Regions from separate parts of the Homo sapiens genome. Here region 1 is linked to region 2. Evidence: fine-mapped expression QTL. A gene starts in region 2. The other region holds a variant in brackets. All regions are shown on one strand. Distances are from middle to middle.

Region 1 (4,256 bases), 27 kb after region 2:
TGATGTCTGAATATTACCAGTGAGCACTTGCTTAGGGCCTGATTCTGTCTACACTGTGTAGCTTGCACAAAGAATTTGAGAAATAACCTTTCTTTATATTGCTAATACAACAACACTATTGGTTTGTTATTGTTTGTTACTGTTGATAGGAAAAGCTCCATGAAAACCAGTCATTGTCTCTAAGGACGTAGGTTGTTGATATTTAATTCCAAATTTCCCCTTTCAAGTCCTGTCTCCTCATTCAGTCAGCAGTGATGTGGCTCCACAATAGCTGTAATATTGTCATAATTTCCATAGAAACCATCTGTAAAGCTGCAAACACAGGATTACACCCTCCCTGCAGGCTGAGGCAGGAAGGCCAGATGGGCTATGAAGGGGAAAAGCCCTCAGCGAGACATAAATCATTTGGTGAAGGGGAGGAGGATGGGGGAGGAAACCACTTTAGGAGAAAAATTCTGTTTGGTGCAATCTTTGCAAACAGGATGAAATTCCCAAATGAAGTGGCCAGCAGCACGGGCTCCCTTCCAAGGCCAGTGTCTGGAACTGGTTACTTGCCGGGAACCTGGTTCTAATGAGGCCAGAGACAAAGATTTCTTATTATGTGGGCTGCTGATTTCACAGGTCATTAGCCACAGACAGACAGACAGAGAGACAGACCTAAGATCCTGGTCAACTCTTGTGTGTTCAAAGACAGAGATGGAAAGTGACGTGTAATGTTCACTCCTCAGTGCCAGGCTGGACTTTTCACATATGTAGCTCATTGGGCCTTCACAGTATCCCTTGGGGGGGAGATATTATTCCCATTTTACAGATGAGATAATCGAGTTATTCTCATTTTACAGATATGATAACTGAGCTATTCTAACTCCTTCTTGTTCAGATCTCATCTTCATCTTAAGTTTTCTGAGACCTTTCTCCGGGTGAGGTCCACCTATATGCTTCAGAATGCACCTCTATTTAATACTCATTATTCTGTGTAATAAATACTTGTTAACCCCTTTCCCACTCACCTGAGATTCCTTTGAAGGCTGTGTCCTTACCACTGCCACAGGGTTGACTCATAGTAAATGCTCATTACCAATTTTTGAATAAATAAATGAGAAAGTCTGAGTAACTCATTCAAAATCTATCTTTTCCACAGTTGTGTAGCTGGGAGTTAGAACAGTGCCTGGCATATACAGACCCTTAATAAACATTGGAATGAAGTAGTGAATGAATGGACGTCAATCAGCTGATTACACAGTTTATCAGGAAGTCACATCAAGCTTTTCTGATTTCAAACACAGTGTTACATTAGCCGGGGCCATTGTCATGTCTGGCCAGGCAATTCAAAGCACCTGGCTTCCTGTTAGTGTCTTGCTACTGTTTGCTTTTAAAAGTACCTCTTATTATATAACAGCTCTAACTAAAAAGCATTCGCTGAAAGCTCGGAAAGTGAGGGTGAGACATGGATCTGTTACTCACCATGTAAATTTGATCATATCCCTTTACCTTTCTGGGCCTTAATTTCTCCATTGTTGAAATAATTATAGTTGAGTTAAATGTGAGATTTTCTGTGAGCACCGCCATATGGTTTTGCTTTGTGTCCCCACCCAGATCTCATCTTGAATTGTAATCCCAACGTGTCAAGCGAGAGATCTGGTGGGAAGCGATTGGATCGTGGGAGCAGTTCCCCCATGCTGCTCTCATGATAGTGAGTTCTCACGAGATCTGATGGTTTTATAAGAGTTTGACAGTTCCTCCTTCACACACTTTCTTTTTTCTGCCTCCTTGTGAAGAAGGTAATTGCTTCTTCTTCAGCTTCTGCCACGATTATAAGTTTCCTTTGGCTTCCCCAGCCATGCAGAACTGTGAGTCAATTAAGCCTCTTTCCTTTATAAATTACCCAGTCTAAGGCAGTATCTTTATACCAATGTGAAAACAGACTAATACAACCTCCTTCTTTTAGAAAAAAAAATCAGAAGTAATCTTATGCGTAAGCTCAATACAAGTGAAACTGCTT[T/G]GATAGAGACTTTCTCAACCTTCCTTTTATGTGCCCAGCCTCTACCCCTTGGTGGCCTCTGAGGAAGCTCAGTGGAAAAAACGGTCTCTGGTGAACACAGTTGGGAAATCACTAGAATAGATTATAAGTAGGGCCATTCTGGCTCTAAAATTCAAGAGTTCTAGAAATATTGGCACTGAGCTCCACACATTATGTGGCCAATCTGAGCTGATGGTGTGTGCCACCTATCCTTACAAATATAGATCTAGATGGAGAAGAATGGCCATGGGATTTGGTGTCATAATTTCTGATTTTTGAACACTCAGATCCACCACTTCCACAAAGGGTATTACCCCTGAGCAAATCATTTTACTTCTCTGAGCTGATTTCCTCAAATCTATAGATTGTGAAAAGGGTTCTTTCATGATTGGGTTTTATGAGATCCAAACTGATAGCTATTGTTTATCGTGTAATTACTAAGTCCTTGGTAAATTACATTGGGAGAGGCAGGGAACCATGGGTTTTGGGTATCCTTGCATGTTGTTGCTGGTTATAACAAAAATATGAGGCCCTGACTGCTCTTTATCTGGATCATTTCTCATGGTTATGTTTTTAGTGAGCAATCTTGAGTGATGAGGTAATGTTTCCCCTAGACAAAGAGTAGTTTTGCTTCCTCTTACTGTAAAAGTGGCAAATCTTCCTACATCAGTATTATTCTCCTGTAACACAACCCACTGTATGTGCAGGCATCTGGCATCTGTGTTGAACCATGTCTTAGTCCATTTTGTGCTGCTATAACAGAATACCTGAGACTGGGTAATTTATAATGAACATAAATTTATTTAGCTCATGATTCTGGAACCTGGAATGTCTAAGAGCATGGTGCTGGCATCTAGCAAGGCCCTTTGTGCCATGTCATACTATGGTAGAAGGCAGATGGGCAAGAGAGGCAAAAATGAGCAAGAGTTCAAACTCACAGCCTCAAGCTCTTTTATAATTGCCATTAATCCATGCATAAGGGTGGAGCCCTCATGACCTAAACATCTCCCATGAGGCCCCACCTTCAGGCACTGTTGCATTAGGGATTACGTTTGCAATACATACTTTCTGGTGAACATATTCAAACCACAGCAAGCCTTTTGCATCATCCCTGTGAGACTTGGGAGGTGTGGGCAACCAAAGAAAGCCAACATAAAACTCTAGCTAATGCTTTTTCATGAGTAATAAAGTCATTTGTCTCTGACCCAGGAACCTCCTGTCTTCTGCCAGCATCCATGAAATAGTAACAGGCTAATTTGTTAGATTGTAAGTAATATAAAACTTCAGACCCTACACAGTTCTTGACATATTATGTGTAATATATTACATTGTAGTGTATTCTATCATATGATTTTAAATTATTACAGCAGCCCTATGAGGTAGGTAGATTCTAGTAACAGTATTTCATAGATAACAAAAACAGTTTCAACAAGGTTCAGTGACTTGCCAACTGTCACACAGCTATTATGTGGCAGAACTGAGATTAAACCAAGGACTGTTTAATCCCAAAAGTTACACCCTTATCTACATTTCCTCTCTGAATTTTATGAAATAATGCGTATGAAATTTTTTGTAAACTTTAAAGCATTATATACATATGTTTTATTTTTAATAAAAATAGATTTATGGCCAGGCGTGGTGGCTCACACGTGTAATTCCAGCACTTTGGGAGGCCAAGGTGGGTGGATCACCTGAGGTCGAGAATTTGAGACCAGCCTGACCAACATGGAGAAACCCTGTCTCTACTAAAAATACAAAATGAGCCGGGCGTAGTGGCACATGCCTGTAATCCCAGCTACTCAGGAGTCTAAGGCAGAAGAATCGCTTAAACCCGGGAGGTGGAGGTTGCAGTGAGCTGAGATCGCGCCATTGCACTCCAGCATGGGTAACAAGAGAGAAACTCCTTCTCATAATAATAATAATAATAATAATAATAATAATAATATATATATATTCATGATGTGTGCACTAAGAAATTGGTTCATTTCAACAAATCTGTATTGATTGTGGTCCTAGCTTCCTACAGCAGATAAAGCTGCCCATTTAAACTTCTGTGGAAAACCTGGGTTTAGTAATGGTTATGCTGCTTACCAGCTGTGTGACATTGGACAAGATAATTAACATAGCCATATCAGTCTAGGTTCAGCCACCATAACAGAGACCCTACTAGGTGCTTCAGACAGAGGGGATTTGATACAGAGAGTCGATTATACACATGTTGGAAGTTGAAAGAGCG
Region 2 (4,256 bases):
GCCTTCAAAGAGTATGTCTATGCGCACAAAGAAGCCGGCCATATGCTTATGAGCATTAAATGAGTTAATATATGTGAAACAATTATAATAATGACTGGCACATAGCAATAACTCCATAAACATTTTCTGGTGCTGCTGTCGTTGTTATTGTTATCCTCCATTTGTTCAAAAAGAATGTATCAAGTGCCTGTAGATGTTCTGGGCACAAGATATACAAAGGTGAACTGAACAGACCAGATCTCTGCCTTTATGGAGCTTAGCATGTATGTGTCCATACTTGGGAGGGGGAGTGTTTAGTTCACAAAATAAACAAAGTTCTGTAAGTTGAGCAGAACAGTGAACGGCTGTGCTACCTAGATGGGTGGTAATAGACTACATTCTTGGTGAGGACAGGCCGATCTCTCTTGTTCGACACTGTTGCTCCAGCATCTTGTGAAAGCCATAGTGGGTACCTGATTTATGTTGGTTGACTAAATAAATAAATGGGTGACTTTCTGAGAGGGAGCACAGTTAAATCCGGCACAACAGGTTTTGGGTTTAGGTGGTGTGTGCAGATATGATGTAAGGTATGTAGTTTGCAGGTTCTGTTTATGTGGCAGAGTCGGCGTCAGAGTATACGTGGGTGGACGTGGGGAAGAGAATGAGGTTATGAAAGCACAGATGTACATAAGTAAAGTCTGCATACATCTGAGGTAACATGAAAAGCAAAGTCTTTGGTTGTGTGATTTTTGAAGTAAATCTGGGCTTAGGTGTGAATCTAAGTGTCGGTTCCGACTGAGGTAAACCTGGACTTGTGTCAGTGTGTGAGATTAAAATCTGGGGTTTGTTGTATGAGGGACAGAGCATCAATGAAGAGTGCTTTGCAAGGCAAAACCTAAGAATGTGTGTGTGTGTGTGTGTGTGTGTGTGTGATCTGAAATGAGGCAAATTAGGGGTGGTAAAAAGCAAACTAGGATATTATATAGAAGCTAAGAAAGGGCTTATGTGAGCCAAAGGGCTTTTGTGACTCTCAATGAAGTAAGAGGGCTTCTCTCTCAGTGTGTGTTTGTGTTGTGTGTGTAAGCCAATTCAGGACTTCATGTGAGAGTGTGGGTTTGCAAGGCAGATTCTAGAACTGGGTGTAGTTATGAGTGTCATCCTAAAGATCAGGATGAGGCAAGTCCGGGGTTCCGGGTAGGATTGTGAGTCTGTCGTAAATTTGAGTTTGTATGTGTTAGTTGTAAATCAGGACTTGGCTTTGAGATGAATCCACCTGGGTCAGCTGGGTTTTTGTGCACGAGGGACGTCAGAAAGCTTTGTGTTTGTGAGGCAAACTAGGGAGTTAGTGTGGGTGAAGCAGTCAAGTGCTGGAGTGTGAACATTTCTAAGACGTCTAAATTGCGCGAAAGTGTGTGAGGCAAGGCTGTTGCGCGAGCGGGCAGTGTGCGCCTGTGTGTGCGTGTGCGCGCGCGCCAAGTTTGGTTTGTGATTGTGATGGGCACCGACGCTGCGTCAGCCCGGGAGGCCACGTTAGGGTTGGGGGTGCGTGAGGAGGTGCGGCCGGGCGAGAGGTCCAGCGAGTGAGCCAAGCGCGGCGCTACTCTGGGCCCCTGCTCCGCGCGCTAGCTGGCTGTGTGGCTCGCTGGCTCGCTAGGGACAAGCAGGAATCGGAGCAGCACTGCCGCCTCTGGCGCGAAGGCTCAGGCGCCTCCTCCCGCCACAGTCACTGTGGCTCGGCGCACGCTGCCGGCGGCTGCCCTTTCCGCCTCTGGGGAAGAAAAACCCGCGGGCCGCTTTCGTGCTTGAACCATGGCCTCGGGCCGGAGGGGCTGGGACAGCTCCCACGAAGACGATCTGCCCGTGTACCTGGCCAGGCCGGGCACCACGGACCAGGTCCCGCGGCAGAAATACGGCGGCATGTTCTGCAACGTGGAGGGCGCCTTCGAGAGCAAGACGCTGGATTTCGATGCCCTCAGCGTGGGGCAGCGGGGCGCGAAGACTCCTCGGAGCGGCCAGGGCAGCGACCGAGGATCGGGGAGTCGGCCCGGGATCGAGGGGGACACCCCGCGCAGGGGCCAAGGCCGGGAAGAGAGCAGGGAGCCCGCGCCCGCCTCCCCCGCCCCCGCCGGGGTAGAGATCCGGAGCGCCACCGGCAAAGAGGTGTTGCAGAACCTCGGCCCCAAGGACAAGGTAAGGGGGCCCCGGGTCACTTCCCTCCTTGCCTTCGTTCCTTTCTCCAGCCCTGGCCGCCATGGCCCGGGCACAACTTTCTCCAGCTCACTTTGCACGGGGCTGGGGGACAAGGAGGAGGAAAGGGTCATCCTCCACTGAGCGTAGCGCGACTTCCTAGCCCAGACCCTGGATTCGCGCGTGTCGCCACTTGCAGCATCTTCGTGCAAGCGCGGAAGGGATGCCCGGGTTCCCCTGCCTGGAGCCGCGTCCTTTGCCCCTGCCTCCTCGCCGCACTCCTGGGCCATCCGGTCTGGGTGGGTGTGTCAGCCCGGGAAGGCTTAGTGATTTCCAGCTCTTCTCTCTAGTAGCCAACAGCACAATTGTCTTGCCCCCCTCTGGCCCTAGATTAAATCTCAACCCGGGTCACCACGGCAGAGGGCAAAGTGATGCTGGGAATATGGGGGTCATCTCCATAGTGCCCGGATGAAAGTACTGGAGGGGCGGTCTCCCCTCTCAGTCTTCAAACATCAGCTCTGTCCCTGAAACTTTTGGGTGTGGAGCCTCTAGACTAAACACGCGAATCTCTCTCTATGCCTCGCTTGTGTCTTAGCACGGCATTTCACATCTGTGTTTGTAAAGAGTGTATTTGTGTACATAGCTTGGCACAAGACTGGGTATTACAGGGGTCCAGCTGCCTCTGCAAGAATAGCATTATATTTTAGAAAATAGACGAGAGTATTAAGAGTGCACATTAAACTAGCATGAGATGCAAATTCCCTGCTGCTCTTAAATGTGCCAAAGCCAATTTCTTCTGTATGTGTATTTTTGAGAAACTTATGTCACACTGAACTGACTGAAGGGATGGCATTGAAATCTAGCTTGCCCTGATTTATGTGTCTATTTCACAGAGACTCAGAGATGTAGTTCAGAAAATGCAGGGCCTGGCAGGGCTGGAGACTTCAGAGTTCAAACTGAAGCTTTCAGTTGGGGAATAATAATAATCAGATGCCCTCACCCTTGTCTAGGTAATGGCCGCAAAATCCATCCGCATGTATTATTCTGCACTAATATGGTTAGGAATAACAACCTGAAATGGAAATGTCTGCCTCAGAGCAATTACAGTTAATGCTTATTCAGGTTTTAGTTGTTTTTCCATTAAAATGCAATGAGCTAGTGAAAGAACAGCATCTCTGTTCACTGTTTGATTTTTGAAAGTTTAGACAAACCAACCAACCAACCTTTGACTACTAAGACCACCAGGGAAAATAAGTGCTGAAGTTAGTGCTGTTCAAGGGTACCACTTGGAAAACAATGTCGGCTTCCTCTGAAATCATTCATTTAGTTTGTGATTTTCACATCATCCTTTTAGTGCGTGATTCCCCTAAGCCCTTGCTTACCAACGTTTTAGGGAAAACTTCTGATATTTTGCAAATGTTTTGGTTGATATCTAAACTGAAGAAGAACCCTATAGAAAGGTTATTCCTTTCTTCATGTCTGACTTGTCCATATTGAAATGTTCCCTTCCTGACTGGAACGGGCGGGAGTAGTGATGGAAAAGGTCGGTAACAATTGCTGTGAGTCAGTGCTATTCCCTTTGCTGAAACACCCCTGATGTAAGCCAGATAATATGCTGGGTTTGCAAGATTTAAGAATGGTAACTAGAGAAAGGGAAAATATTCCTCCTTTAAACCTAGCAATTCTCCCGTTTTCCTCCCTTTTGCAAACCCTATACTTTTGGCTACTAATTGAGAAATAATAATACAACCTAGGCATCAGCAGGATTTCTAGTGCTACATAGTCATTTGTAAGTTTGGGCTTGCCATCTGCTTCATCCAGGCCATGTTATTATCTCTAATTTGGTTGAATCACACTGTTAGAAGAGACCACGGAGGTTATCAAGTTCTGAACTTGTTGTTTATTTCCTTGAGGGTAGAGATTGTGTATTTGGATTTATCTATGTGGCTAGAATGCTTGGCACATTGGAGGTGCTCAATAAATGTTTGATACACTAAACCTCCTTAATTAAACCATCTGTTTTGCCACATAGCTGGCAAAATGATCATCTGGCCTCTGCTTAAATACAACCATTGTCAGGGAGCTCACTA

Which allele goes with the higher level. Alleles are on the strand shown, and positions count from the first base shown. SD is a standard deviation of normalised expression in the study named.
In carriers of allele G in region 1, the expression in lymphoblastoid cells of the gene that starts at base 1,579 in region 2 tends to be lower than with T alone (moderate effect, 0.63 SD a copy in GENCORD).

Evidence for each region. PIP is the estimated chance that this variant, and not a neighbour inherited with it, causes the effect. A credible set is the group of variants that fine-mapping cannot tell apart.
Region 1: its variant is the best candidate, but not a certain one, in a credible set for the expression of DPYSL3 in lymphoblastoid cells (GENCORD, PIP 0.59).

The regions. Positions count from the first base shown.
Region 1 is chr5:147,480,413-147,484,668 of GRCh38, reverse strand. The region is part of intron 1 of DPYSL3 (dihydropyrimidinase like 3); the gene reads left to right. Among named protein-coding and RNA genes, the nearest start is that of DPYSL3, 28 kb to the left of the region's middle. The variant T/G (reference allele first, on the strand shown) is at 2,003.
Region 2 is chr5:147,507,391-147,511,646 of GRCh38, reverse strand. DPYSL3 (dihydropyrimidinase like 3) reads left to right here and starts at 1,579. Exons shown (of 14, transcript NM_001197294.2): 1 at 1,579-2,169. The coding sequence starts at 1,789.